3 separate regions of the Homo sapiens genome follow, and all the other regions are linked to region 1. Evidence: fine-mapped expression QTL. A gene starts in region 1. Each other region holds a variant in brackets. All regions are shown on one strand. Distances are from middle to middle. Region 1 holds the start of ADAMTSL1 (ADAMTS like 1). Region 2 overlaps ADAMTSL1 (ADAMTS like 1). Region 3 overlaps ADAMTSL1 (ADAMTS like 1).

Region 1 (10,474 bases):
AAGCTTTATTCAATGTAGGTTTTAATCTTGAAGTTCGGGAATTGGGGAGATTTAGTCATTTATTTTTGAGCTCATGGAAAGAAGGGGTTGATAGCAACAGCTTACCCCAGTTAGCAGGCAGGCTCCCCACACAGCTGTGCTGGCCTATTTCAATTAGGATCCTTTAGGACTTACATCACCTCTGGTATGCCAGTCCTAAGCCGCTCATGAGCCAGTACTGCCAATCAAGCCAAAATTCAACCACATGGTATGGTTTTTATGATGTAGACAGAAAATGACACGCACTTGTCTCATTCTGGTGAAAACACAAAGTTTGAAGCCAGCTCTCTAAAAGAAGAAAGTTAGTAACAATGACAAGACTGTAAAACTTGATTTAGACACATTTTCCTGTGATTATCTCAATACAGTTAACCAGTAGGTTATTCATGGTGATTGAAGGAATGCTCTCACTCAAGAAAAGGCTCCGGTCCTTATGCTACGAAGAGGTCACTTCTGGGTCACTCTACTCATGAGACCACAGAAACAGTAGAATATGCTTACTGAGAGGAGGGCACAATTAAACTTACATAGCTGGACCTGAGAGCGTGTCATTCCTGGAAACTGGAAGATACATGAATTAAAAGCAGAGCTGTCACTTGACCAAAGAAACAGAACTACACATATGAATTTAAGAATCACTGAAAATATGAAGAATTAAAGAACCCTTCGATAGTCTCTGTAAGTCATTTTTTCTCTTCATTTAGTTCACAAACTGTATCTACACGGCACTCTACTAGGTGCTTCGGGAAAAGCAGAAATTCATAGGACCCAGTATTTTTCCTGGAAGAGTTTAAAATTATATTCTGAGTAAGCCATAATAAAGGGGAGAACCAAAACACCAGACCATGTCTCATGCTAATATAATCCCCAAGCAAAATACAGCCCAAGTAAACTAAGTTTTTAAAAAACATGAGTAACTTGTATAGAGTTAACGACACTTAACTGATAAAAATTGCAAACCCTAACTGTAATATTGTTAGTAGGATAGAATCAACTTAGGAGATGTGAATCTCCTAAGTTAGAGTAATAGCCTACTCCATGGTGTGTTAGAAGACTGCTTTCCAATTTATACATACATAATAGTAAATGGGCATCAACATGTATTAAAACATACAAATGCACAAATACATACATGCATTTATTTATTCATTCTCTTTGTCTCTCAAAAGACTTCAATTTCCATATGCTTTTTCAAGGAAAAACTTTCCTGGTGTAACAAGATTCTTCTGTAGTTCACTAGTGACCACTATTGGACACTCTTCCCTCAACTTATATGAAGCAACAGAAATGGTGTTATGTGAAAATAATAATGGGGGCCAGAAAGTGGTCCTGAACACACTGAAACACTAAAAACAGGAGCCTGAGTAAACAAAAATGTAGCTGGCCATGTCTAGACAAGAAACTTCACAAAAACATGAAGAAAGTGATTTTTAAATTTTAAATGCTTCATAGCGTTCTGTAGATCTATGCGAAAAGTCTTCAAGCTTGATTTAAAGACAATCTAGGTCTGAGAAAAAGAAATCTGTGTAGAGTGAACAATTATAGAAAAGTGCTTGTGCATGCACATGAACACACTGACATACATGCTGCTGGAACAGGCCGCGGTCTCCTGTAAATAAGGGACTTAACATTCATTCCACAAGCTAAGGGTGCTTCTCCCCATCCAAGATAGATCCACTTAGATAATAGTGGGAGAGAGTGCCAGAGGGACTGAAGGGAATGGGCTATTGTGTTTGACTAGTTGCCATGTATAAATTAGTACAGAGAAGAAAAAGAAATTCAACAGGAAAACACATGTACTTTATTATAATTCCTAGTGTTACTCTTGCAACTCTCACAATAGCAGGCAAAAGAGCTTAAAACCGTTTAAAAGAAACAAAAGGCAAATGCAAATTTGATTAAATGCCTTTCTGACAAGAAGTGATTTGACTTCAAGTGTAGATGGACACATATGTCAATGGCCGGTCATGGTTTTTGCCACATTCTTTTTGAGCTAAACAATTGGGACAAAGGAGAGAGAATAAATACGAGAAAGCAGAATGGGAGGATTGAGAAAATGGCATTATGTAGCTTAATTTCACCTGAATATCAAATGAAATCTCTTGATCAGTACTACTGTCCTACTGTGTCCAGAATATAAATTTATGATATAAGTTCTGTGCATGAAAATATGGGTGGTAACGTAAAATAGATTCAACACCCATCCTCTCAGAAATAAGTTCCAAGGGGAAAGGATTTTGACAGAATGAAGGCTGAACAACCTTCAATATTTGTACACACTCAAGAACCTAGTCATGATACAGATGATTCAGCTGTCAGTGAAATGAGGGATATTTTAATAAGGTAGAAACTGGGCTTGCCACAAAATAGACAGGATGTTTTCCAATTAAGTTACAGAGACCTTTAGAAATTGCCCCAAATAAGTCCAAGAATAGACAGAATCCTTGCAATGTGTAAATGAAAACAAAAACAAAAAAAAGACTATAGGAAAAACAAGCCCCTCAATTCAATTTCTCTATCAAGTTTGAAGGTTGAGCTGATGATGCCACACTTCTAGTTCTAAATCAAGTACACAACAGGCTAAAGGTCACAATCTCTTAAGCCAATAATTAAATTTAATGCTAAAGGGGGCAGTTAATGAGCAAGTTTAACAAGTGCTCATGATATTGTACATATCTTTAATGATCAAGATGATGCAGAAAGCCTAAATATCTGCAACAAAGGGTACAGACCAACCTGCACCACTGTTTTCATTGTTCTTAAATATTTACAACCACCATACGAAGCAAACATGTTCTATTCTCTCCATTATTTGACCTTTGGGTTCAAATGCAAGCTTATTTCATTGCCTGAAAAAACGGGTTTAAAATGTCTTATCTGTATGATTATTGTAAGGATTTATTGTAATGATTTTCAAACAACTAGCCACATTCAGACACAAAATACATGACAGCTATTACTAATGCTGTTATTGCTTGGCAAAGGGATGTATGTAAACATCAGTCAGTTCTTCCTTTTGTAGCATAACTCTCAGATTTCCACTTAATTTAAATGCAGGCATAAAACAAACCTAGGTTTGTTTTAATTTTATCTTTATAATACAATTATTGTAATTTAAATATGATATGTTTTAAGTCCTTCTGAAATAAGCATACATACCTTTTCATTCCACATAAGTCAAATTATATGCTCTAATACATATATGAATATTCAAGATATCACAGAGGGATATAATGCGTTTACCAAATGGATAGCAAAACAATCTATTCCTGAATGGGAAAGTTTTACTAAAGTATAATGAGATCATACTTCCATATGAAAATATCAAAAAAGTAATGTATACTGGTAATTTGCTTTATGATGCAATATAATGGGAAAATAACACACACTTAAAAAAATCACAAAGAAGGAAAGATGAGACAAACTAATGGTGTATACAAGTAACACATCCCATATGGAAAAAATGAGACACCTTTCATAAATCGCTTGCTCCACAAGTCATAAAGCATACCTAAACATTCTGTTCTTTGTATTTTTCAGAACAGCTAAAACTTATAGTTCATTCATGCTTGAAATGTAGTTTACCTTTAAATTTCTATGAAAAATTAAAAATTTATTTCTATATTTATAGCACTTGCAATGCAGCATTATAATTTCTTAGCTACAATGATGCAAATCATTAAGAAGTGGGAATGTATAAAATATTGAATCACTGTCTGATTACTCTATTTGATGAATCTCCTGGACTTTTTCAGTTTGTACCAAATGGCTTTCTTCCCTACTTCAAAATTATAGCGCAGATCAGATTTGTCAGAATATAATCAGAACAAACATTCCTTCCCCATCAAGGAATCAATGCAACCTATTCATTTGCTACATTTTTACCTTGTTCTCTTCCTGCCTTGTTACCTTCTGAGGAAGTTCTGGCATGTTATAAATGTGACAGGAAAAACTACAATCACATTTGTTTGGATCAGTGTGTGCAAATTTTGGAATCAAACCTTCAGATGAGGTTTACTAAGCTGCCTGCCCAGAACACTCTGGTTTAAAAAATGTGCATTGCTATTAATATTTTGAGTGTAGATTTATTTTGGACAGTAAATGTTCATTTTCTGCCCATAAAACCAAGTATGAGTCACAACGGAACATTTACTTCGAGTCAAAAATGCAATGTGTACTGACGTTCAAGAGCAGAGCATCTTATCACTATGACTGTGGCAATCAGCCGTACTAAAAGTCACCATTCCTTTTTCTTCTTTAAAAGTAAATTTGAGATCAAAGGCCATAATCCTCAATTCATAAATCCTAGCATTAACTTCTATCCATAAATGACTTGCAGTAATTAAGAGCCATAATCTGGGTTGGCTGCAAAGAGGCTCTCATTCCCCTCTTTACCTGGTTCCATAGTACATGTGCATAGATGGAAAGTAATTCATTAAAGGCGGTACGGGCAAGCTCTGCAAAGCCTATCCATCAAAAAATTCCAGGAACACCACAGTGAGTGAGTTTAATTTCAGGATGTCTGTTATCCAAATTCCAAGCATACACACCACCATATATACAGTCCTCAGCTCCCAAACTCCATGCAGTATGTCCCAAAGTTCATGTCTCAGTATCAGTATTACTGTATAGCAGTAACTAATTCCAGAAAGTCTTGCAGACTTTATCTTGCTTGGGAAGTTGAGGTTAAAAGTTCTAGAAGGAGTATTCTCTCTTTGTAATCGTGTAAATTATTTTACCTGGAGTTTTAAGATAAAGACACACACACACACACAAACACACATACACACACACACCCCCAACAGCACCCAGACTCAATGGCAATAGCAATGCATTGAAATGAAAAGGCATTTACCAGGAGCAGGAAAGCCAGAAAGAGGAGCAGTGTGCCAGGAGTTGCCCGACGGCAGCATTCCATGCTTGGATCCTTGCCGGAATCAGAATCGGACACTGAATAAGCTGCTAAGTGCTCCTCTGCCTGCTGTCACATCCAGTACTGGTGCTAACACTCCAGTCCTGCCTATCAGCTTCCATCAGCCCCTCTCACATTTCCTGACCGAGGGGTGGGTGGGTGGATGGGTGGGGGGTAAGCTGAATGGAATCTCTCTCGGAGCAGGCAGCCAGCCAATCAGGCTCCTGCTAATCAGACATGCTGAATAACAAAGCCAGGAGGACAGAGAAAGTGTAACGGTGCGAGCAAAAAAGGGGGAAAAGGACGAAAAAGAAAGGCGAGCGAGCAGCAGAGCGAGAAGGGAAATGCAAAAGATGCAGAATTGCAAAAGATGAAGCCAAGCACTGTGCTTCCCATGGACCTGGTTAGTTCTTTGTGAGATGCATTTCTATTTGCCATTTGCCTGTGCTGATGTCTGTTGCTTTGTAAAGTACAGTAGCTCCCTGTGACTGTGTATTGTTCCATTCAGGAGAGAAACTTAATCCCTGTCAATATATAACATATGCCATAAAGGGAAAGAACCATAGACAAAAACCGACTTAATGTGCCCTGTAAATGTGTTCTGTACAACTGTTTTATTTCGCCTCCATAAAGTTCCTCTTTACTTTCTCTCTTGACTTGCAAAATAAATACTCTATACATTTTCTGAAGGTTCCTCACTAAGCCTAAACAGTGGCATAAGTTATTTTGTGTTATTAAGGACTTAATTTGGGGGGAAAAAAACAAAGCAAGTTGCTTCTCTGTAAAGTGACAATTGAAGGCATTTAAGATTTGCTAATTGTAAAGGCACAATTAGAAACTTAGATCCCCCAGTTTAAAAAGAAACCCTCAACAAAGACTCCAGGATGAGTGGGGCTGAAATTTGGGGTTGAGGAGCAGCCTGGTTTTGATGCACTGCCAACTCTCAACTATCTATTTTAGCCACGGGAGAGAAAGAAAGGATGAATTAAATCCTCAGTTAATCCCCAAACCTTCTTTTAACCAAGTTTCAGCTTCCTCCGCACCTCACCCACGTCCTTTATCAGAGCTGTTATAATGCAGAAAAGGCTGAACTGAGTTTTACCTCATTTTTCCATCCACTATTGCAAGAGGGTTGGATGGGATGACCTTGGAGGCCAGTCCAGCCCTGAAGGAAGTGCTAATGAGCAGTGAAATGACGACAAGGCCAGCAACAGCAACGAGAAGGTCAGGAAGCTTCTGAAGCTGCTTAATCCACCAGCAAGGGAGATTTGACTCTACTAGAGGAAGGTTTTATTACAGTTTTAGAAAAGTGTCAAATGTCAAACAAGGATGTATTTCCCCTTATCTGCAAAGGAAATCATTGAGTTTTGAAAGAATAAAAGAGCAGCCCTGGCCTTACATTGCCATAGGTGTGTCATCAGGACGTTTTCCCTTTTCAGATCTCCTGATAGCCCAGAAATATATGCAGTGGAGGTACAAGACATTTAGAATTAATGTTCTTTCCTTTCATTATTAAAAAATACTGACAAGAGGTATGAAACACACGAATATGGAAAACCTGATCAAGCCATAATGGGCATGTGAATACAGGCAGGTCTGCCTATGTACATACCTGCTGCGTTGCTTTTCAAAAAGGTGAAGAAAAGCAGGTTGTTCAACTTTAGGTTACCTACTTCATATGGTATATCAATTAAAGAGAGAGAAACTTTAAAAATCCTATTTTCATGCTGTTAGGAAAGTCAAGGTCATACAAAGATTATCCTTTGTTCTCAATATTAAGTATGTGGACCTAGAAAAATGGACAGTACAAATCCATAACAAAGAGAGCCCATTCTTGAAATATGCTTTTCCCTTTTAGAAAGATTTGTTTTACAAATCTCTCAAAAACTAGCTAATGCTCATAAGCTAAAGCGTATTCACAAGTAGATGTAAAAATGCTTAACTTTGTCTTTCCACTATTGTTTTTGTCTGAAATCCTCATCACATTAAAGAAAGGTGATTGATTGAAATAAACTTTCATTCATAAAGCTATGTTACATGTGTCTCTCTGTTACACACCAGAGCTTTCTGCTAAAGGGTTTATTTTTTTCCCTCCTATCACAGTCATTAACTGAAGAGTTTCAGCTAGTTCTATTAATGGAACATTTTACCTAATACCACCTCCTCCCTCTTCACACATAAACCCTGCTCATTAAGCAGATCCAAAGGGAAGAATAGGTAATGGGAGAAAGAAAAGTAGCAACAAAGCTAATGATGAGATACTATTTGTAGAGGAACAGAAAAATAATCAGCATGGTCAGAAAATAACTGGGAACCACTTACATGCTAGTTTAGATTCTTTTCTGCTTTGCAAATAAATACTGCCTAGGTATTTTGAGTCAGAAATTTCTGCCTTGAAGTTTTAATGGGCATGCTAATGTACAGCAAGATGGTCATCTCAATGAAGTCACCGAATAATATACTATTTTAAAGTTAAGCCCTCAATCACCTGTTGAATGCCTGGAGGATGCCCACCACACTGTCTCATGCTTCTGATTCCTCACAGCATTTTCTTTCCTCTTGGGAATACCCAGAGAAACTAGGAAAAGCAATTGCACATCCAGAGCTACACAGTACAGGTGAAATTACAAATTTACTATAACTTCAGAAAAGGGAGAACAAAATCAAGTTGGGTTAAGGTGACTGGGAAAAGTTTTGGTCATGAACTAATTTTGATGATGGCCAAAATGTACATGCCATCTTTATGGTTTACAAAGTGATTTTACATTTATGATCTCATTTGACCTTTGTGACTACTTTTTGAAATTAAGTAATCACCCCATTTTATGTACGTGGAAACTGAGGCTCAGAGAAGTTAAGTGACTTGACTAAAGCTTTGCTGGCTAGAACTGGCCATTGAGCCACGGTTTACCGAATCTAAATCCACCCTCATCTCATATTCATATATATGCATTATATCTATATATGATGTATACACATACATATATTCAGATGTTGGCAGTGATGTTGTTGAAGGGGGATGTTTATAGGAAAAGGAAAGTAGGCTACCAGGGTTTACCATGGGTATATGTTACCTGACGATGGAAAGTATCTTATTTTAGCCTCCAGCTTCTATGTGTCTTGACTTTCTCATTTCTAAAACGTTTTCAGCACCTAGGAAAAGTAATGTAAAACTTTAGGTAATCTAGATCCATATTAATGGCAACCGGGGAAAGGCCACTTACGGCATCTGAGCAGGGCGTTGGCCAAATTCCTTTTTTCCTCTTCAGGTATCTAAATTAAAACCGTCTGCAAGTGTGTGAGCAGCAGCACTAGCAGAAGCCGTGGCAGCTGAATAATACTGGTTACTGGCTCCATGCACAACATATTAGGTGAAATGAAATCAGAAGCAAGAGAGAGAGAGTGTCAGGGCTGTCTGAAGCATCATTCCAAATGGTATGGATTTAACAATACTTAATTGAAAAGACACCAGCTTGGACAGAAGCAAGCTGTTAACATTCAGTGTGCTTTATGGGAGGAAAGAGTGAGCTAAACTTTCGGTATTTCTCTCCCTGGGGAGAATTCGTTACAAGTCTTGCTCTGGAGCCACCTGTCTCTTTCTTCAGGTTGAGCCTCTCTGCTTAGCCCGTCAGCTGCAGAAACCAGTGTATAGGGGACACAGGGTCTCCTGGAAAGAACTCAGGGCTGGGAGGATTTCAAGAGCTAGGCAGGGCCTAATCTCCCCTCTTTAAGGAAGTGGTTATGGCAGCATCTGAGCCTTGTTTTCCCCACAGGGATGCAGTGAAGTTCGATTTCCCTGGTTAATTCTGAAAAATAAAGTAAGGGCGACTAAGATAAAAGTATAGGAAGCAGACTGCTATTCTCAGGGGCAGAACTGAAATTTGAGCATTACTCCACAACTTGCCAACTCACCTAGTATCTATTTAACACCAAAGCCATTAGAGCATTCATTATAGTTTTCAAATCACCTTTCACACATGATCTAATGTGATATGAACAGAAACTCTAGGAGTTAGAGAGTGATTATTATCCCCAATTTGCAGATGAGGAAACCAGTCCTCCTACGTAGAAAATGGGTTCATCAAAGTTATTAGCAGGCAGGAAATTTGGGGCTCTATCAAAGGCTGTTTGACTTTCCCCAGGACTACCATCTGAGACGCTGACAGATGAAAATAGCTACATACACTGAGAGTCTCCCATGTGTAGGCACTTTTCTAAGTATTTTATATTTATTATTTCACGTAATCCTTACAACAACTCTATGGGGTAGGTACATTTATTAACTTCACATAGATGTTTTTAATGATGGGTTAGCAGTCCTTCATCCCAACCAGTGCCTGAAGTCCAGAAACAACATTTTCTAGACTCCCTTGCAGCTAGGGTACTGGATGGAATTGAGAACTAGCCACTCTGAAGTACTACAAAAATTCGGAAGGAGGAAGTGAGGCAGAAGCTACTACACTTTGCTCTGTCTGCTTGTAAAAATGGCTACAGAGCAATGAGGTTTTTCTTGTAACCATGCTAACCAGTTGCTATGTTTGCAGGTGTCAAGAGGCAGGCATGGGACATGCATTTATTAGCTGGATCAGGGAAGGTGGGCATGGCCCTTGCAGCTCTTGCTGTTTCATGCAGCTTTTCCATTCAGCAGCAGATGACTTCCTGGCTGTGGAAGAGGCAGCAACTCCCATGGTGATGTGTTTCTGTAAAGCAGCACTGGAATCTTCAGAGAGCTCAAGTTGGAGTCTTTTTCTTTGGTAACTCAAATGTTATGTGTTATTTAATATCCTATAACACATCACTTTCTGCTTAAATTAGCAAGAATAAATTCTGTTCTTTGCAACAGAATCCCAACTGATATACCCCCTTTAACAGAGAACACTGAGGCATAGAGAATTAAAGTACTTGCCCAAATCATATCTCCAAAGAGGGAAAGGGCCAAGATCTGAACCCAAGCAATCTGTGTTCATAACCACTAAGCTATACTGACTCTTTGTAAAGCAAAGGGCCATGAGAATTCAGAGAAGGGAGATGTCAATGCATATTTAAGGACTCAGTGAGGAGTTTGGTAGAGGAAAATGGAAACTGAAGAAGGCTTTGAGATATACACAGACTTTTAGGTAATGAAAAGAAACTAAGGAAAGGCTTTACAGCTGTGGAGAACAGAGTAAGCAGAGAGAAAGTAGAGAAAGGTAAGACTCCTGCTTTTACTCAATCTGATTCACTACTGCAGGTTGTGTAATGGGCAAAAAATATGATTTTAGATTCTTTGTCCCATGGTCTTCCTCTCTTTCCCTGCAAAGTGTCTAGCATAGCATGTTGCTTACGTGACAAACTCCACAATTGTAAAATTTGATCTGATTCGTCTCCAAATGGCAGAAGCCCCAAGGGCCTCGGCTTACGGTTCTCCCTACAAGACTTAATTCAGGGCTTCTCATACTGTAGGTGCTTGGTTAAAATCTGTGACCCCAGTCAGTAGAAGAAAGGAATTCTGGAGGCTGTTTGGTACCATGGGAAGAACTCAGT
Region 2 (10,474 bases), 250 kb before region 1:
TTCAATCCTGAGGCTATTTATGTTTTAAGTTGGCATTTAAATCCTTAAGCTTAAGGAAAGGATCAACAGCATCTGGAAGGTTGGAGAGAAGGGATAAGGAGGATGCAGAGGAGGGAAAGCACTGAGGTCTTCCCAGCTGTCATTGATAATATGGTCCAAACATTGCTACCTATAAATTTGGCCCTGGTCCTTCATACTCATTTATATAATAAACACTTAATAATCATCTACTATGTGTCAAACATTATACTAGGTGTCAGAAATATAGAAAGGAGGATTCAGACACAAAGCTGATAGCAAGAACTCTAAAATCTAGTACTCTTCTAACAGAAAATGACTATTTTTAAAAAGTGTTCTAAAAAATGTAGGCACTACATGCACACAAACACACAAATTGGAACAGTCAGAATACCTCCAGCTTGAGAAGACATCTTCCTATTGTGAATAACCAGGTATGAGGATGTATTTGCCTAAACCTGGTGAAAGTTAGACATGTGCTTCTGAAACAATCCCTGCCATCACACAGAGTCAAGAGAAGCCAAGTTTAATCTTAGAAAGCCTGGCTAAGCAGATTGGACTTGCCCTCTAGGGCCTTTGGTATTCTCCATGTGATCTGATAATTCTGACTACATACAAGAAAAAAAGTGGCTCCCTAACTGGTGTTCAGTGGGACTAACAACTGCCTGGGAAAGCTATTTATCTTAACCAGGGGGTGACCTCTCAGAGACAAAGGCCCAGTGACTAAGACTTGAAATGTCATTTTGTTATGTCCCACTGAAAATGCTATGGTATTTTTTTAAACACATGCATAGCAGCACAGACCAAGACCCCAAAGGACACGGTCTAGAAACTTGCATCCCATCAGAAGACACACAAAAATGTACAGGGAACGCTGAACCATGTGGAGTAAGAATTGTGAATTAAAGACCTAAATTGCTCCCAACAGAACAGAGGTTGTGGGTTGTGTGGGAAAACAACACACTATTATGCTCCTACCAAACACATTTTATTTTCTGTATACATTGAACACCAGGAGAAGGGAAGGAGAGATTTTTCTCTGACATCAGAGTGAGATATTCCACAGGAAAGGCACCTCTATACAATTATCATTTTTAGGGGGAAAATCTGTTTTGACTCTTGGATGAGATTAGGCCATTATACTTTGGTCCCCTTTATTGTTGCAATTAGCAACCTTCTACAAATGTTTAAATGTGTATGGTCGACCCAAGAAACTCCTGGCTGTGCCCAGTGAGAGGTCTTGCCTGTTGGCTTGACAGCTGGCTGGTGGGAAATCAGAGAATTGAGTTTATCTGGAGCAAATGCGACAACATTAAGCTCAACAACTGTTCTTGTCTGTGAGTCAACAAAAGGGTCACAGGATAACCTAACCTTTTGTAACTTAAACATAGTTAGTACTTTGAGAATGAGAAGTAACATCTCATGTCCTATTCGTTTTGGTGCTCAAAGAAGGGTTTAGGGACCACGAGTCCCAGCAGTTTTAAGCAAGTCCCAGGCACTGACTCCTCGGCACTGCCTCAGCATTTGGGTGTTGTTACAACACAGGAATGTGGTTAGAAAGACCCTTTTGCATGTTTTTCAAATAATGGCAAATAAGCAGAACAGAAATTACAGGAATGATTAGCACACAGCAGCAGGAGTAGCTGTTTAATGCTTCTGCCTACAAAATAAAGAATCATGGGACATGTGAGCAAGTCATGGGATCTCAGATCATCAGGTACAACCAGTTCACTTTGCAGATGTGGAAACATAAAGGGCAGACACCTCGCCCTAGGCCACAGAGCTAGTTGGTGACAGCAGGATGAGAAGCCAGGCCTCTTGGTTGCCTAACAAAGAACGTTGCAGGCGTTCCATGCTGAGTCGATACTGCTTCTTCCTAGATGACAGGACTGTAGTCAAATAGAAAAGTTGGTGCCCTTTGCCCACACATTTAGGCTCAACAACTAGAGAGCTGCGAAGTTAGGACAGAAATGTGGAACCAGGTGGGGCAGGGATAGAAAACGAGGTTACTCAGGATTTCATGTACAGGACCTGACTTTGACTCTATCTTGTTGACTGCTGTTCTCATGGGTTGGGTGCTTCTCCAAAGCAGTGGCTGACTGATTTTATGGTTGCCTTGGAGAATATAGCATGAGTTGCCCTCTTAACTTCTGTATTTGAAGAGGGGAATGCCCTGGTCCACCATTCAGATCATCATACAGAACAACTCTGGTGACTAGCAGGAGGAGTGTCACCATGGGATGTGCCTCCATGTGATTGGAGGAGGACTATGATCTGTACCCTCCAAGTCCCAAAGAAAGGAATCTAGCCAGCTGGGAAATAATACAAGCAGTGCATCATCGTGACCAGCAAACTATTGTTAATGCCTGACAGCAATACAGGTATTAACTACTTCTTACATGACACACTTTGCAGAAAGAGAAAAACTATCATTCAAAATCAGCATTCCCCCTTTTATCTAGGATCTGACCCTATTCAGCAACATTTCTTCATTCCATCAGCAGATTTGAAAGTCTGGATTTAGTTCTTAAACGTCTCCCTTCCAAACCCATAGATGAGATTTGCTCAAAAAGAAGTATCTAGAAGGCAAGTTTCTCAAGACACCATAAAATTGTAGGGACTGAAGCAGTGATTGGATTGATTAATTCAATCAAGGCTGTGACTCAATGTTGGCTAATAATGAGACCCAGGCAGGGCTGAACAATGAAATGCTCTAATTGATTTTACGCATGTGGAATGACACACACACCCCCAGAGCATGCTACGATGAATCTGCATGCTGTGTGCATATAGATTTCACAGTGGATCAATTATACCACCCAGTTGCTTCAGGCCCTTATATTCTGCAATTCACAGACCAGTTCATTACTATGGTGTGAGTGCTTAGGACACAGGCTAAAAGGTGGCAGAGCCCATGAAGTCTGTTGTCACCTCATGTTCCCTTTAGGGGAAAGCAACTGCGTGGCACACACACATACCAGCCATGCCACAGGCTCAAGTGAATGCACGGTATCTTCCAGATTCTGGCATGACCATTGACTGGGCTAGAATTCCAAAGCCCTGGTTTCAATTAAACTTAAGTGGATTTGACTAAAAGTTTGAACTGATGCTAATTGGTTTTCAAAACACTGAGTAACAAATAAGTGTTACAGTCTTGCCCACTGAAAGATGCGCCCAGTTCTGTACGTGCCCCTGGACAGCAGGGCAGGCCACACATCCCTTACCTTGCTGGGCAGGGATCCAAATTGCAGGACTTCAGGAGCTGTGGGGGCCGGCGGCTGGTCACGCACAGGTTCTCCTCAGCAGGCTCCCGAGTCTGTTTGTTCAAGCAGCTCACCACAGCCTCCTGGACACCTGTGTACAAATCACACGGTCAGGCCAGAGTGCAAAGTGGGTGTGTGTGTGGGGGGTGATGAAGTGTAGACAAGGCAGCTGGTGGGAGGTCCCTGTGTTCTGTAGGACTCTCGCTGTATGTCAGAGATGGCAGTTTAAAGCCCAGGACTGCCAATCTTGTCAAGCATCACTTGAGCTGGGAGAAAGTATTCATAAGCTTGTTGCCTCTGTGAGCATGCTCCTTGAGGAGGGCAACTCCCCCACAGAAGAGAGGCTGCTACCTAGACTCTTGAAATGCTTAAAAAAATGCCACGAGGCTAATGCCACCAATGCTGGAACATGATACTTCAATGAACAAGGAGCACAGGGTGGCAAAAAAGGGGCCCAAAACCTTCACATCTTATATTTTAATTGAAAGGAAATCGTTGTATTTGGAAGGGAGGCCCAAGGCCATGTTTTATATCCAGAATTCTGTAAACTGCTGGGCTCTTGAGGTCTTGAATCTAGGACTCCAGTCTTTGCTGTTTGCCTTCTGATTCTGGTTCATTTCTTTTGTGACCTAGGGCAGCCTTGGAAGTTGGAACAAAGAAGGAGAATAAGATGCATAATAACCACAGCCGTGGAAAACAACCTTCCCACTGACACCCGCAGGCCCTGACTCAGAGCTAGTGAAACAGGAGTTTGAGCAGTGACTGGCACAAGGTTACTGGGAAGTTCTCCAAGGTGGTTTGCAGGGCCCTTGGGGAGACACTTATTTTTATTTTATTTTAAAATTTTTTTTCAAGACAGAATCTTGCCCAGGCTGGAGTGTAGTGGCACGATCTCAGCTCACTGCAACCTCTGCCTTCCGGGTTCAAGCGATTCTCCTGCCTCAGCCTCCCGAGTAGCTGGGATTACAGGCGTGTGCCACCATGGCCGGCTAATTTTTGTATTCTTAGTAGAGATGGGGTTTCACCATGCTGGTCAGTCTGTCTCGAACTCCTGACCTCAAGTGATCTGCCCACCTCGGCTTCTAAAAGTGCTGGGATTACAGGCGTGAGCCATTGCACCTGGTCCCCTTGTGGAGACATTTAAATGAGCAATGTAATGACCAGACATTTCATTTTGATGCCCAGTCATAATAACAGTAGCTAACATATACAGGATGCCCATTATTAACCAGGTACCAACGCTAAGAGCTTGGCATGCATCATTCAGTCCTCTCAACAACTGCACAAAGTAAGCACTATTTTTATTCCCATTTAACAGATAAGAAAACAGGCTGGGAAGGGTGAAAAGACCTGCTTAAGTTCATACAGTTGTAAATGGTAAAGCTGAGGATGGCTGTGCCCTTAGTACTGACTGATAGACTTAATATTTAAAAATATTAAGAGGCTGTCATATCTACTTCCCTGGAGATCTTTAGGAATAACCTAGACATTTGTCTGGAATCATTTCAGCAGAGCTCAGT[T/G]TGAGTGAAGAGGCAAGACAGGACATTCTCACTAATTTGCCTTCAGACATACATAGCTGTGTATATAAAGATACTTACATTTAAAGATACCTATCTATAGCTGGACATTTATATATAGTTATAGTAGAGTCTGGGACTATCCATGTAATTAGCAATATACATAAATACACATATATTGCCTTGCTTTATTTTCTGCATTGCTTCATCAGATACTACCTAGTATAGTACAGTTGACCCACCATGCTGCTCTCCTCCCACGTATGCTGTGTTTCTCCAAGAAGTCATCAGCTCAATCATCAGCTAATACTTCCTAGGTTGATGTGACATTGATCTAGTCCACTTAGGAAGGCCATCATTTAAAAAGTGACTCAGCTGGAGTCCAAATCACCTTTCTTCTTTGTAAGTCTGAGAAATTAAACATTTTTTAAAAAAAAGAACCACAAAGCCAGGCACAGTGGCTCATGCCTGTAATCCCAACACTTTGGGAGGCCAGGGTGGACGGATGACCTGAAGTCAGGAGTTCGAGACCAGCCTGGCCAAAATGGTGAAATCCCGTCTCCACTAAAAGTACAAAATTAGCCAGCTATGGTGGTGCACACCTGTAATCCCAGCTACTTGGGAAACTGAGGTAGGAGAATTGCTGAAACATGGGAGGTGAAGGTTGCAGGGAGATGAAGGTTGCAGTGAGCTGAGATCACACCATTGTACTCCAGCCTGGGTGAGAAAAGCAAAACTCCGTCTCAAAAGTAAATTAATAAAAATAAAAATAAAAAAAGAATCACAATATTTACCCTGTGGCTGTGATGGTATCTTTACATTTTCTTTTTTCTAAATTGTTTATGAGCTTCAAAATTTAATTTAAATATATCATGGCCAGTTCAGGGTGGAGCATTTGAGATTTCTATTAGACATTCAAATTATTCCATCATATTCTGTAATGCTGACTGCAGGGTGTTCTCTTGGTTGTAGATGGGATGAGCCATTTGAAATTCATGGTATGACGACACAGCCAAACACTTCATAAGAAACAGTTGATATAATCACTGATACTTCCCACTGGAATAGTCTAGTATTATTAAGGTAGTGATGAGAAGTCACTGGATGTAGCTTTCTATCCCATACAGAATCTAGAGCTGTGGTTATCTTAGAAATTAAATTTTTAACTCATTTACCTGTTTGGTAGTATTCAAGAGATTCTAAATGAGACTCTAAAATAAAACATATTTTGCCTTTATTCAGCTGTTGAAAACCTTATGAAATTGGGTCAACGATCCTGAGGCAGGAAGTGACCGTGGGCTTGTCACATGCTTTACTTGAAAGTGACTGGATCAGGTGTGTGTGTGAAGGTGTGTAAGTGATGTGACCTGTGTTTCCACTTTGTGAACTCCTTCTTGATAGAACTTAGGCCCTTCTGGACAATGCCAAACCTCGCCCAGAGTCAGGTGTGTAAACCAGCTGGAGCGGCGGCGGCAGCGGCAGGACTGCTGTGGTGCCGAGAGTAGCAACCCGGAGGGAGTGACACTGGCTGCGGGAACCCGGTGACAGCGTGAGAGGTACTAGGTTTCGACAAGTTTGCATCATGCATGAGTATAAGCTAGTCATTCTTGGCCCAGGAGGCGTTGGAAAGTCTGCTTTGAATGTACAATTTGTTCAAGGAATTTTTGTTGAAAAATATGTCCTATGATAGAAGATTCTTATAGAAAGCAAGTTGAAGTAGATGCACAGCAGTGTATGCTTGCAATCTTGGATACTGCAGGAACGGAACAATGTATAGCAAGGAGGGATTTGTACATGAGAAATGGACAAGGCTTTGCATTAGTTTATTCCATCAAAGCACAGTCCACATTTAATGATTTGCAAGACTTGAGAGAACAGATTCTTTGAGTTAAAGACACTGATGATGTTCCAATGATTCTTGTTGGTAATAAGTATGACTTGGAAGATGAAAGAGCTGTAGGGAAGGAAGAAGGTCAAAAATCTAGCAAGACAATGGAACAACTGTGCATTCTTAGATTCTTCTACAAAATTCAAAATAAATGTTAATGAGATCTTTTATGACCTAGTGCGGCAGATTAACAGAAAAACTCCAGTGCCTGGGAAGGCTCGCAAAAAGTCATCATGTCAGCTGCTTTAATGTACTAAGTGCATTGCAGCTCTGAGTCAGCTCTGAAGAACTGTTGTCCAATTCAATAGTGCCAACACTCCAACTTTGTTAAACCTACCAGCATCTTAAATGGACTTTCCTGTGGTGGTACCCTTTAAGAGCATATGAAAGCTACTATATCAGTTTGCACATTCTAATCACTTTCAAGCTTCACAAGAGAGATTTTTACTTATATAATAGTCCTAGATTATGCAGCTGGTAAAAGCAGAGACTACATCCAGTATTACTGCTAAGAGACATTCTTCATCCACCCACGTTGTACATGTATGAAAATGGTGTACTGTATACTCTAACCCTCACTCATACTTTGTATTGGAGAGTACAATAATGTAAATCCTAAAAGCACCACTATTTTACCATAATAAAACAAAGTCCAAAGAGCTCCTATGTAGACTACTCTAGATGACTTTGCTTCTTTGATACTTGTAGCTTATTGTAATTTTTTTAAAGAAATTTAAGGTCACTATTATTGTAGAAAATAAGTGCTCTAATTAATACAGCTATATAGTTTTTAAAAATGTTTCAAAAACCTATGGAGACAGTGATCTTGTCTTTAAAATATGATAGTCCTTTCAGTATAATGTCTTCAACAGATTGCCTTTAATATCTGTTGGGAAGGAAATGGGCAGACTTTTCAAATTTCTTTATTTTTTATTTTTTTAAAATTTTTATTTTATTTTATTTTATTTATTATTATTATTATTATTATTATACTTTAAGTTTTAGGGTACATGTGCACAATGTGCAGGTTAGTTACATAGGTATACATGTGCCATGCTGGTGCGCTGTACCCACTAACTTGTCATCTGGCATTAGGTATATCTCCCAATGCTATCCCTCCCCCGTCCCCCCACCCCACCACAGTCCCCAGAGTGTGATGTTCCCTTCCTGTGTCCATGTGTTCTCATTGTTCAATTCCCACCTATGAGTGAGAATATGCGGTTTGGTTTTTTGTTCTTGCGATAGTTTACTGAGAATGATGATTTCCAATTTCATCCATGTCCCTACAAAGGACATGAACTCATCATTTTTTATGGCTGCATAGTATTCCATGGTGTATATGTGCCACATTTTCTTAATCCAGTCTATCATTGTTGGACATTTGGGTTGGTTCCAAGTCTTTGCTATTGTGAATAATGCCGCAATAAACATATGTGTGCATGTGTCTTTATAGCAGCATGATTTATAGTCCTTTGGGTATATACCCAGTAATGGGATGGCTGGATCAAATGGTATTTCTAGTTCTAGATCCCTGAGGAATCGCCACACTGACTTCCACAATGGTTGAACTAGTTTACAGTCCCACCAACAGTGTAAAAGTGTTTCTATTTCTCCACATCCTCTCCAGCACCTATTGTTTCCTGACATTTTAATGATTGCCATTCTAACTGGTGTGAGATGGTATCTCATTGTGGTTTTGATTTGCATTTCTCTGATGGCCAGTGATGGTGAGCATTTTTTCACGTGGTTTTTGGCTGCATAAATGTCTTCTTTTGAGAAGTCTGTGTTCATGTCCTTTGCCCACTTTCTGATGGGGTTGTTTGTTTTTTTCTTGTAAATTTGTTTGAGTTCATTGTAGATTCTGGATATTAGCCCTTTGTCAGATGAGTAGGTTGCGAAAATTTTCTCCCATTTTGTAGGTTGCCTGTTCACTCTGCTGGTAGTTTCTTTTGCTGTGCAGAAGCTCTTTAGTTTAATTAGATCCCATTTGTCAATTCTGGCTTTTGTTGCCATTGCTTTTGGTGTTTTAGACATGAAGTCCTTGCCCATGCCTATGTCCTGAATGGTAATGCCTAGGTTTTCCTCTAGGGTTTTTACGGTTTTAGGTCTAACGTTTAAGTCTTTAATCCATCTTGAATTGATTTTTGTATAAGGTGTAAGGAAGGGATCCAGTTTCAGCTTTCTACATATGGCTAGCCAGTTTTCCCAGCACCATTTATTAAATAGGGAATCCTTTCCCCATTGCTTGTTTTTCTCAGGTTTTTCAAAGATCAGATAGTTGTAGATATGCGGCGTTATTTCTGAGGGCTCTGTTCTGTTCCATTGATCTATATCTCAGTTTTGGTACCAGTACCATGCTGTTTTGGTTACTGTAGCCTTGTAGTATGGCTTGAAGTCAGGTAGTGTGATGCCTCCAGCTTTGTTCTTTTGGCTTAGGATTGACTGGGCAATGTGGGCTCTTTTTTGGTTCCATATGAACTTTAAAGTAGTTTTTTCCAATTCTGTGAAGAAAGTCATTGGTAGCTTGATGGGGATGGCATTGAAACTATAAATTACCTTGGGCAGTATGGCCATTTTCATGATATTGATTCTTCCTACCCATGAGCATGGAATGTTCTTCCATTTGTTTGTATCCTCTTTTATTTCCTTGAGTAGTGGTTTGTAGTTCTCTTTGAAGAGGTCCTTCACATCCCTTGTAAGTTGGATTCCTAGGTATTTTATCCTCTTTGAAGCAATTGTGAATGGGAGTTCACGCATGATTTGGCTCTCTGTTTGTCTGTTGTTGGTGTATAAGAATGCTTGCGATTTTTGTACATTGATTTTGTATCCTGAGACTGCTGAAGTTGCTTATCAGCTTAAGGAGATTTTGGGCTGAGACAATGGGGATTTCTAGATATACAATCATGTCATCTTCAAACAGGGATAATTTGACTTCCTCTTTTCCTAATTGAATACCCTTTATTTCCTTCTCCTGCCTAATTGCCCTGGCCAGAACTTCCAACACTATGTTGAATAGGAGTGGTGAGAGAGGGCATCCCTGTCTTGTGCCAGTTTTCAAAGGGAATGCTTCCAGTTTTTGCCCATTCAGTATGATATTGGCTGTGGGTTTGTCATAGATAGCTCTTATTATTTTGAAATACGTCCAATCAATACCTAATTTATTGAGAGTTTTTAGCATGAATTTTGTCAAAGGCCTTTTCTGCATCTATTGAGATAATCATGTTGTTTTTGTCTTTGGTTCTGTTTATATGCTGGATTACATTTATTGATTTGCATATATTGAACCAGCCTTGCATCCCAGGGATGAAGCCCACTTGATCATGGTGGATAAGCTTTTTGATGTGCTGCTGGATTTGGTTTGCCAGTATTTTACTGAGGATTTTTGCATCAATGTTCATCAAGGATATTGGTCTAAAATTCTCTCTTTTGGTTGTGTCTCTGCCCGGCTTTGGTATCAGTATGATACTGGCCTCATCAAATGAGTTAGGGAGGATTCCCTCTTTTTCTATTGATTGGAATAGTTTCAGAAGGAATGGTACCAGTTCCTCCTTGTACCTCTGGTAGAATTCGGCTGTGAATCCATCTGGTTCTGGACTCTTTTTGGTTGGTAAGCTATTGATTATTGCCACAATTTCAGATCCTGTTATTGGTCTATCTTCAGAGATTCAACTTCTTCCTGGTTTAGTCTTGGGAGAGTGTATGTGTTGAGGAATTTATCCATTTCTTCTAGATTTTCTAGTTTATTTGCATAGAGGTGTTTGTAGTATTCTCTGATGGTACTTTGTATT
Region 3 (10,474 bases), 150 kb before region 1:
TTTGGTTTGTTTGTTTTTTGAGATGGAGTCTCACTTTGTTACCCAGGCTAGAGTGCAGTAGCATGATTGTGATCTTGACTCACTGCAACCTCCGCCCCCTGGGTTCAAGTGATTCTCCTGCCTCAGCCTCAAGTAGCTGGGATTACAGACTTCTGCCACTGCAGCCCGGCTAATTTTTGTATTTTTAGTAGAGACGGGGTTTCACCATCTTGGCCAGGCAGGTCTTGAACTCCTGACCTTGTGATCCACCCACCTCGGCCTCCCAAAATGCTGGGATTACTGGAGTGAGCCACCACACCCGGCCGAGACTGGGCCTACAGAGCTTTAAACGCCTTGCATAAAGACATGACTTTTTAAGTTTGCAAAAGAAACTCAAAGCAGTTAAAACAATGGGACTTTCTAGAAATAGAAAGTCTTTGTTTACCCACAGTTCAAATAAAGTGCAAGTAAAAGGAAAGCTTTCTGTTTGGCCCTGCCATGCTCAGCAGCAGTCTTCTGACCCACACACAGCTCATGCAGCCTCCCTCTTGCTCTGCTGGGAAGTGACTCACATTCCATAAACTGGAACATTAATACCCTAGCTCTTGGCTGATGCTGTAATATCTGTATGTTCCCTAAAGAAGACAGGGTGTGGTAACATTAGCATGCACCCCCAAAAAAGAGAGGAGAAGAACCTCCTAGAAAGTTGTTGAGGAAGAGGGTATATGGAGAAAGTAGACCAGGTGAAATAGTATTTCCTGATGCCCCTTGCACTCACCTAGTCAAAGAGAAATGAAGCAAGTCAGGCTGGTACAAACTCTAGCAGTTGGCAGCACATGGCACAGAAGTAGGAAGAGCCACAGCCTTCTCTTATATATTATTCTGAAAAGGGCTGATGGACCCCTGGCCAGACATTAAACGATCTGCAAATTCATTACTTTATTCCACAAGTATTTTTTGAGTGTCTTTTAGTGTCAGGCTCCATGCTAGGTACTAGGGATTCAGTGACAAAGAAGATAAACAAAGCACTAGCCCCACGAGATGGTCCTGAAAAAGGGATCTAAGATAAAATATGGGGGAAATACAAAATACTACACCCCACAGATGAAATTCCCAAAGCATATTCATTCATTTTTTTAGGAGCACTGCACCAAAGAAACCCATTTCACTCTATTTAACCCCGTGTATACCTAAGATGTTTATCCATAAAAACTTTTTCTTATGTGTCATCTGTTAAAATCAGCTGATATATCTTAGGACATACTTTAAGGAACAGTACTCTTAATTTAACAAAAAACAAAATAGGGAAAACAATTAAAAATTTCATTTTCTGCATGTTCATAAAAAGCCACTTTTGAGTTGTTTATGTATTAATAATTGTCTCACTTTCTGATAAATCCTCAATGATTTGGGATGGATTGGAAGATGCTTCTACTTGGCATCTATTACAATATTGTGCACAGAGTGGTGTTTAAGATCTCTTAGGATGTGAGAGCAATCTGGTGGCAACACCTGCCTCCTTGGTGATTAATGCCATTAGTATAGCTGGCGAGGCAGGGGCCACATCCTCTCCCACCGTGCTGCACATTCCTCTGGGTGCCCTTTCCTACAAAGGCACACTGTTTTACGATTGAGTGCATCTGCCCTAATCTATTCTGGCTTTGTTGACTGAACCATGATGCCAGTCTTCAGGACATATTTCTAGCTTATTAATCAACAATTCTAAATGATCTGCTTCAGATACCAGATAACCCATTTCTCCATTCAATGAACAAAATTTCCATGGGAATCATAAATTCTGTCATTTCACAGATATGGGTTGCAAATGTCTTTTCTCAAGAAAATTCTTCCCAAGGACTGTACCTAAAAGTATTCTTTAAAAAATATCTATCTATATGTATATCACACAACTTTCTATATAGAATATTTTATATTCATTTTAAAATCTTGTCATATGTGGATGTTCTGCGTGATTCACAGCTGTGTCAGAGAAAGGTGATGAGGATAATATTTTGAAAGACAGAATTTCCTATTCTGATATCTGAGTTTATCTTATTTTTAGATCCGTTGATGAGTTCATGTTTTTAAAGACTCTTCCCTCTATGCCTATGGAGCTGACACTTTATTTTATTTTATTTTTAAAAATGAGAGAGTCATTTTAAAATACAATTGACTATGTATAAAAATAGTCTGCCAATCTTGAGGAGGTTTAAATGGTATGTTTTACATCTTCGTGACGGTTTTATTACTCTTAAAATATATCCAACAAAATAAGAAGTTGAGCATCTGAGGCTTTCAATTTTCTCCCTGGTTTATCTGTAATTGCACAATAGAAGATATATACTGGACAGGCCAAACAAGATGCCCTCCTCATTCCCATCTGGAGAACTTCATCCTTCCATTTGCCTAGGCCAGAAAACTTGGAGCCATCCTCTACTTCATCTTTATATGTAATCAGTTAAAAAGTTCTGTTGTCAAAATACCCTATTTCATTGATTCCAAGAGGGACAACTTTTCATGCTTTAACATATATGAAATCAGAATACATCTCACAATCAGTAGTATCTTATATTCCCTCTCACTCAGGCGATAATCCTGACATAGATACCGTTGCCTACACAGGTGCTAACATCAAAACAGCCAGTATCAAACTCACAAAATGAGTGTCAGCCGCTTGGGAGAAAATTATAAGACAATATTGGAACACATTCAACCTCTAGGAACCAAATGGCTGTGGAGGTTGTAGGGAGATGAGGAATCAGAATTACAGGTGCTTAACTGCATTGTCGTAGAAGGAGTCAAAAGTTGGCTAGCTCTATGTAATTGCAGAGCTGAATTGAAAGCCCAGCACCAAGACTTCTGCTTCTGACAAAGATGAACTAACAGGAACCAGATTTAATATTCTGTCTAAAACAATCAAAAAGTCAGATGAAACCATGGTTTTTAAGATATTGGACATCAGGCAAAAAAGGGCAGCAATTCTGTATACTCAGGAAACACATCAGATAAGGCCCAACATTGCCCCAGCTTACTGCCTTGATAGAGTTCCTAGGCTACAGCTTTGGAAGTATGAAGACCTGTAGAGCTCAGTAGATTCCCTGAATTGAGTAGACAAAGCCAAGAGTCCAAGGAGACAAAAACAGTTAGAATTTCTGGGACAAAGTAACAGAAAGGAGAGAGCTATACAGAAGGACAACTCTGGACACCCAAGAGGGTTTCCTTAAAGTAGCCAGCAGCATACTAATCAATACATAAGTGTGAGGAAATTACCCGGCCTGGGGAAAGAACTACACAAAAGAATTATAGAGAAGAGTACACGGTGCTCATACAGGGCTGAGAATAGTATCTTATCCCATCAGCCAAAGTGACAAACTTTGTAAGTCATGGAACATTAAGTAGTCTACTCAGAAAGGTCCCGCCTCAGTAAAAGGGTACAATTAGCTCTAGACCAAACATGGCTTTGGTCCTGTCTACCACATTTTAAGACCCCAAAGGTTCAAACTGATTTCAGTAACTTAACTGCTCCCAGAACACAGCTCAAGGATATTTATAGAAATACAAAAATATCTAGTACCCAAGAAAGTAAAATTTGTAATGTCTGGCATCAAGTCAAAAAATAATGAGGCACGCAAAGAAACAAACAAACAAAAAAAACAGCACATATTAAAGTGAAAAATCAATCAATCCAAACACAGAATGGATATTAAAATAGTTACTATAATGGTGTTCCATAAGTTCATAAGGTTACATACTGAAAAATAAATCTCCAGATCCAGAAAATTTCACTGGGGCATGGTAGCAGCCATTTAAAGAATAAATATATTCAATTCCATACAATCTCTTCCAGAAAAAAAGAAGACAAGCAATTACTTCTCTACTCATCGTTTGAGGCCATTTTGTGCTAATACTAACACCAAACAAAGACAATACAAAAAAGAATACGACAGACCAGTATCTCTCATGAACACAGATAAAAAGCCTCAACAAAATACTGCCGAATCAAACTAGAAATCTATATAAAGAATAATACACCATGACCAAGTACACTTTATCCCAGAAATGCAGAGTTGGTTATTTAAAAACCAATTAATGTAATTCATCACAATAACAATCTAAAGAAGAAAAACCACAGGACTTTGTCAGTTGAGGTAAAAGAGAATTTAATAAAATTCATCATCCCTTCATGTTATTAACTCTCAGCAAACCAGGAAAGGAAGGGAACTTCCTCAATCTGATAAAGGGCATTTATAAAAACCTACAGCTAACATCATACTCAATGGTGAGAAACTGAATGCTTTCCTCTTAAGATTAGGAATAAGATAAGGACCTCCATTGTCATCATTCCTATT[C/T]ACTATTGTATTGCATGCGTAGCCAGTACAATAAGACTACAAAAAAAAAAGTGGCTTACAAATTGAAAAGAGGCAAAACCACTCTTACTTGTAAACAACATGATTGTTTATTGAGAAAATCCCAGTCATCTACCAAAAAACTCAGAGGTATTGAGTGAGTGTATCAAGTTTACATAATACACGGCTAACACACAAAAATCAATCATGTTTCTGTGAACTAGGAATATATAATTGGACATGGAAATAAAGAATACAATGCCAAGCCAAGCGCAGTAACTCCTGTAGTCCCAGCTACTTGGGAGGCTGAGGCAGGTAGATCACTTGAGCTAAGGAATGTGGGTCTGTAGTGTGCTATGATTACATCTGTGAATAGCCACTGCACTTCAGTCTGGGCAACATAGTGAAACCTCATCTCTAATTTTAAAAAAGAGAATATAATGCCATTTGCAATAGTTACAAAAAATACAACAGATGTAAATCATATAAAGTATATGCGATCTTCATGCTGAAAGCTAATAAAGGCTAATCAAAGAGATAAAATAAGACCTAAGTAAACAGAGACATAAAATTCTCATACCTTATAGATTGAGTGACTTAACATGCTAAAGATGTCAATTCCTACCCCCTCCAAATCAATCTGTAGAATTAACACAAAAAAATCCCAGCAAGACTTTTTGTAGATATGGACAAGCAGATAGTAAAATTTATATGGAAAGACAAAGACCCAGAATAGAATAGCCAAAATGAATTTGAAAACAAGAACAAAGTTGGAGAAATCACACTACCACATTTTAAGATTTACCTTAAAGCCACGGTAATAAAAAAAATGGAGTATTGATGAAGGGACAGACACATAGCAGAATAGAGTCCAGAAACAGACCCTCAGAGAAACGGCAATAGATTTTTGACAAGGTTTAAAGACAATTCAAAAGAGAAAAGGCTGTCTTTTTCAACAAATGGTACTGGAAGAATTGGGCGTCTATACGAAAAAAAATTCAAGCTACCTATCAAACTTACACCTTATACAAAAAATAACTGAAAATAGGTCACTGATCTAAAGGTGAAATGTATTTCTGCAAGAAAACACGGAGAAAATCTTTGTGTCCTGGTCTTAGGCAAGAAGTTCTTAGACATGACATTAAAAGCATGAGCCGTAAAAGAAAAAAAATGATAGCGTGGTCTTCATCCAAATGAAAAGCTTTTGCTCTGTGAAAGATAACATTAAGCAATTTTGAATAAAAAAGCTATGATGGAGAAAATATTTCCAATTCAAATATCCCACAAAGGACTTGTACCTAGTATATATAAAGAACTCCCAAAACTCAACAAGAGAAAGTCAAGCAACACATTTTTTAAAAATGAGCAACAGACTTGAACTGACACTATGCAAAAGATGAACAAAGCACACTGTGGTAAGTAGACTAATGTATCCCTCTCCCCTGCCAAATATGTCCTTAAATCTGTGAATGTGTAATATTATGTGGCAAGGGGGAATTAAGGTTGCTAATGGAATTAAGATTGCTAATCAGGTCACCTTAAAATTAAGTGATTATCCTGGATGATCTGAGTGGACTCAATGTAATCACAAACATTCTTTAATATGGAAGAGGCAGGCAGAAGAGGAAGCTTGAGTCAGAGAGAGATCTGAAGATGCTAAGCTACTGACTTTGAAGATGCCAAAGAATGTGCATAGGCTCCAGGAGCAGGAAAATCAAAATTGAAGAAAGAGAAATACTCCCTCAATGCTTCCAGAGCTGTGTTCTGCAAACACCTTGTTTTTAGCCCAGTGAAACCTATTTCAGTTTTCTGACGCCCCCAGAACCATAAAATAATAAATTTGTGTTGCTTTAAATCACTTAGTCTGTGGTAATTAGTTACAGCAGCAATTGCAAGATAATACAACATGAAAAGATGTTAACATTATTAGCCATTAGGAAAATGCAAATAAAAACAAGTATGAAATACCACTACTCACTGATAAGAATGGCTAAAATTTAAAATGGTGGCCAGGTGCCGTGGCTCACACCTGTAATCCCAACACTTTGGGAGGTTGAGGTGGGCAGATCACTTGAGGCCAGGAATTTGAGACCAGCCTGGCCAACATGGCAAAACCCCATCTCTACTAAAAATACAAAAATTACTCAGGCATGATGGTGTGCACCTGTAATCCCAGCTACTTGGGGAGGCTGAAGTGGGAGGATCACCTGAGTCCAGGAGGTCAAGGCTGCAATGAGCTGAGCTGTGATAGTGCCACTGCACTGAAGCCTCAGTGACAGAGTGAGACCCTGTTTCAATAAAAGAAAAAAAGAAGAAAGAAAGAAAAAGAAAAGAAAAGAAAGAAAGAAAGGAAAGAAAGAAAGAAAAAGAAAAAAAGAAAAGAAAGAAAGGAAGGAAGGAAGGAAGGAAGGAAGAAAGACAGAAAGAAAGAAAGAAAGAAAGAAAGAAAAAGAAAGTAAGAAAGAAAGAAAGAAAGAAAGAAAATAAATACAGGTGCAGTATATCTATGATTGGATCACTTCTCATCATTTCCACAGCTACTGGTACAGTCCAAGCCATTGTCATCTGTGGCCTGGCTTAGTGTAATATCTTTCCAACTACAGTCTATTCTCAGTATAGCAGAAATCTGATCAAGTTATTCCTCTGTTCAAAATCCTCCAACAACTTCCCATTTCATTCAGACTTACAAAAAACCCCACAATATCTGTGCCATTCTTCCCCCAGCCTCATATCATTTTCTCTAGCCTTTTTGAAACTCACCTCATTTTAGTCACACTGGCTTCTTTGTTCTTCATGAAATATATCCCGAATGCAAATACCACAGGACGTCTGCACTTGCTTTTCTCTTTTCCTAGAATTTTCTTCTCCCTGACTTCTGCATGGTGACCCCTTTTCACTTCCCTTAGATCCTTGTTTAAATGCCATGTTATCAGTGAGTCCTTTCTTTATTAATTTACTGAAAATTGCAGCTCCCCTGCATCACCTGTGGCTGGCAGCCTATACCCATTTCCTGTTCTCCTGCTCTGGTTTGTTTTTTCCATGGCTCCTAGGAAGATAAATGGATTTTGTCTGTTTTGTTCTGTGCTGTTTCCAGCACCTAGAACAGTTCCTCAGCATATAGCAGGTGCCCATTAAATATGTGCTGTTGAATGAATATATCCTTGAGTGGCTTGTGAGGATAGCCCAAAGCAGCCAGGGGCAGGTGGAAATTTCTTTAGTGTTTTGTGCTTTCTTTAAAAAATCCATATGTATTTTGTACTTTATAACATAGAGGCCTGTGTTTTATTATAAGCGTACTTTACCTCAAAATCTTTGAGCTAGAATGATAGTCCAAGAATATGTTTACCCATAGCCATTATACGTCAGCATAAGCCACAGTCTGAGAAGCACATTTTTAAGTATTAAAAGCTTAATTTTATCTTGATATAAGTGAGTTAAGTGACCTCACCATGCAAGAAAGGTAGAGAGAGAGCTTTAGGATCTCCAGGTGATTTCAAAACATACAGATACAGACGAGAGTTCTGCAAAGCTGGAAATATCAAATTGATAGCAAATAGGCTGGCTCTAGCCCTAAGAATATTCTGAGTATACTTGGAAAATATAGAACATAGTATAAGTCAATAAATCTTGTGAGAAATGAACTTTTAAATTTTAAGAATCAAAAGCAAGGTAATGTCAGCTATATTTGACTATTTTTATTGGGTTGGGGGAGTTGAGAAGTAACTAGAAAAAATGAAAAGGCTGAGTGCTACCAGTGGGTAGTCTTTTCCTTTAAGAAAGGAGAAAGAGTACTTTGATCTTGCTCTATTTCCATTGTCTGTATTTGTATTAGGCAATTGTAATGTCTTTTAATAAAAAGATGATTTTTTAAAAATCACCAGCAAATGGCAGCCATTTGATAAACTTCTCCTACTTCTCTTTATCCTTCTGGCACATTCTACCATGGTTTTTCTCCACTTTCCTGTTTTTGCTTTGTTCCTCTGAGGCTTGATAACATAAGGGAAAAAAAAAAAAAACTTGGATATAAGTTCAGAAAGAAAGTGAGTTCAATGTGGGGAATCTGAGTGCCAGAAGTTTGAAGAGAGCATGTGGCGAGCTGACAGTGCCTTTTGGCAGAAGACAGGGGAGAGATCTGGCAGGACTCCTCCAGGTGTGGAGAACTGCTCACCTGGCTTCTCCACTGGGCCCTGCAGAGCAGCCTCATGTTCCCTGCCAGTGGGTCGCCTCACAGTCTGTAAATATAAGATGGAAGATTCTTCCAGAGTAGAGAAACATAAGTGAGGCAGTTTGTTCAGCATCTGCTATAGATTGTGGTGAGGTGCATGCATATGGTGGGCTTTATTGATATCAATCATTTTGTCATGAGACATCATCAGTGCTAAGGTAAACGAATCAATTCCATTTTGTCAGTATGTATAATCATCAGGTTGTGTATTATATAATTTACCTACTGTCGGTCTTGAATAGGGCACTTTTCATTGAGGTATTTATTTGCAGACTTGGAGATGATATAGGGCTCTCAATTTGCTTCAGTTTCTTCCTTAGGAGCTTCTCCATCTTTGTTTTGTGATTCAGGCCCTAGAGGTCACCCATCCCTCCCTAACAGTAGGGTAAGAGGAATGTCTATCTGAGCACAGTAGTCTAGATCCTCTATGAGAACAAGAAGGTATGGGCATGAGAATAAAGAAGCACCTTTACCATTAAAAACATGCTCCCAGGACACTATACAGCCATCACTGCACACATGCATGACATTTCCTTTTGTACCTAACAGTAATTCCTAGATTCCTAGATAATGAACACTGATTCAGTTACATGCCAGAAATAATTAGAGGATTTTAATTCTTTTAGCATTCCATGAAGAGTTCTTAAGAGTGATCTTTTAAATGTAACTCTTTTCTAACATCCAACCATGATTTACAAGAGAATTATGCCTCTATCCATTTCTGGTTTCCATCTTCTAACTTTAGAAATTTTTCATCTTATGGAAGAAGCTACCAACCCACATGACCAAAGAAAAATCTCACCTGAATGTGTTATATCAATGTCTAAGTTACCTCATTCTTTATTCTATATGCCAGAATCTTTTAAATTTATTTTATTTTTTTTGCAGAATTACATTTTCCACTGTTTCCAAGGGAGTTAGAATGTACAGAGTTCCCTAAACTGGTATCTCCAATTTTTCATGTGTTTGTAAGTCCCCATTCTTTGTTTCTGCCTCCTCTTTTTACCTCGAGGCTAATCCTTTGGCAAGCTGCCTTTTCAGGACTTCTGAGAATATTCCTCCACTGCATACCAGAATAACTGCATCTGCCTTTCTTCCTTGACCTATAAGTCCATTTAAAGCAACAAACTCTCCATATGTCAATTGTTTTCCTCCAGCTAGTCAGCAAGTAAAGATAACAAAACACATTCAGTAAAGATATTCATTCTCATTTCCCAAACCAGAGAGACATATGGAAAGAAATACTCAGTCAGGGATCTATTGAAGGATTCTGCATAGTAGCAAAATCTGGAGACAATATGCCAAGCAATGTCAAAATAATTCTAAAAATGCATGTCCTTAATACAAGGGCTGTCTTATTTCTATCTGTATCTGCTGCAGTGCCTAGAATAGTGATTGTCAGACTGTGTATCATAAAATGCCTCAGATTAATGACTCAATTTTTGGCGTAGGTACCATGAGAACTTGTACCATCTATCCTAGCAGGACCTGACTGGGTAGACATCTGAGGCACCTTCCCTTGATCCATCTATCTGCTTTGCAAATGTCCCACCACAGAGACTATCAGCGGGGCTGTGACCAGTCCAGAGAAACAAGTAAGTGCTTAGGCTCTGGAATCAGACTCTGAGCTCAAATCTTGGCTCCATTACAACTGTGTGACTCTGTGCAAGTCCCATAATCTGGCTAAGCTTCAGTTATCTCATCCATAACATGGGGATTAATAGTACTTTGCTCATGAGGTTGTTATAACAATTACATGGGACGATTGTGTGAAATTCTCAGCAAGTACATGTCTAATAAGTACACTTTTTTTTTTTTTTGCTAGTATTGAGATACCAGGACACAAAGGTCAATAAAAAGCTTCATATAGGCTGGGCACAGTGGCTCATGCCTGTAATCCCTCACTTTGGGGGGCTGAGGCGGG

What was found.
Region 2: its variant is fine-mapped to the expression of ADAMTSL1 in tibial nerve (GTEx, PIP 0.91).
Region 3: its variant is fine-mapped to the expression of ADAMTSL1 in left ventricle (GTEx, PIP 0.96).

The regions. Positions count from the first base shown.
Region 1 is chr9:18,468,716-18,479,189 of GRCh38, reverse strand. ADAMTSL1 (ADAMTS like 1) reads right to left here and starts at 5,037. Exons shown (of 29, transcript NM_001040272.6): 1 at 4,895-5,037. The coding sequence starts at 4,957.
Region 2 is chr9:18,714,434-18,724,907 of GRCh38, reverse strand. ADAMTSL1 (ADAMTS like 1) reads right to left here. Exons shown (of 29, transcript NM_001040272.6): 15 at 3,243-3,372. It also overlaps the pseudogene RAP1BP1. Among named protein-coding and RNA genes, the nearest start is that of MIR3152, 150 kb to the right of the region's middle. The variant T/G (reference allele first, on the strand shown) is at 4,802.
Region 3 is chr9:18,623,140-18,633,613 of GRCh38, reverse strand. The region is part of intron 5 of ADAMTSL1 (ADAMTS like 1); the gene reads right to left. Among named protein-coding and RNA genes, the nearest start is that of MIR3152, 55 kb to the right of the region's middle. The variant C/T (reference allele first, on the strand shown) is at 4,329.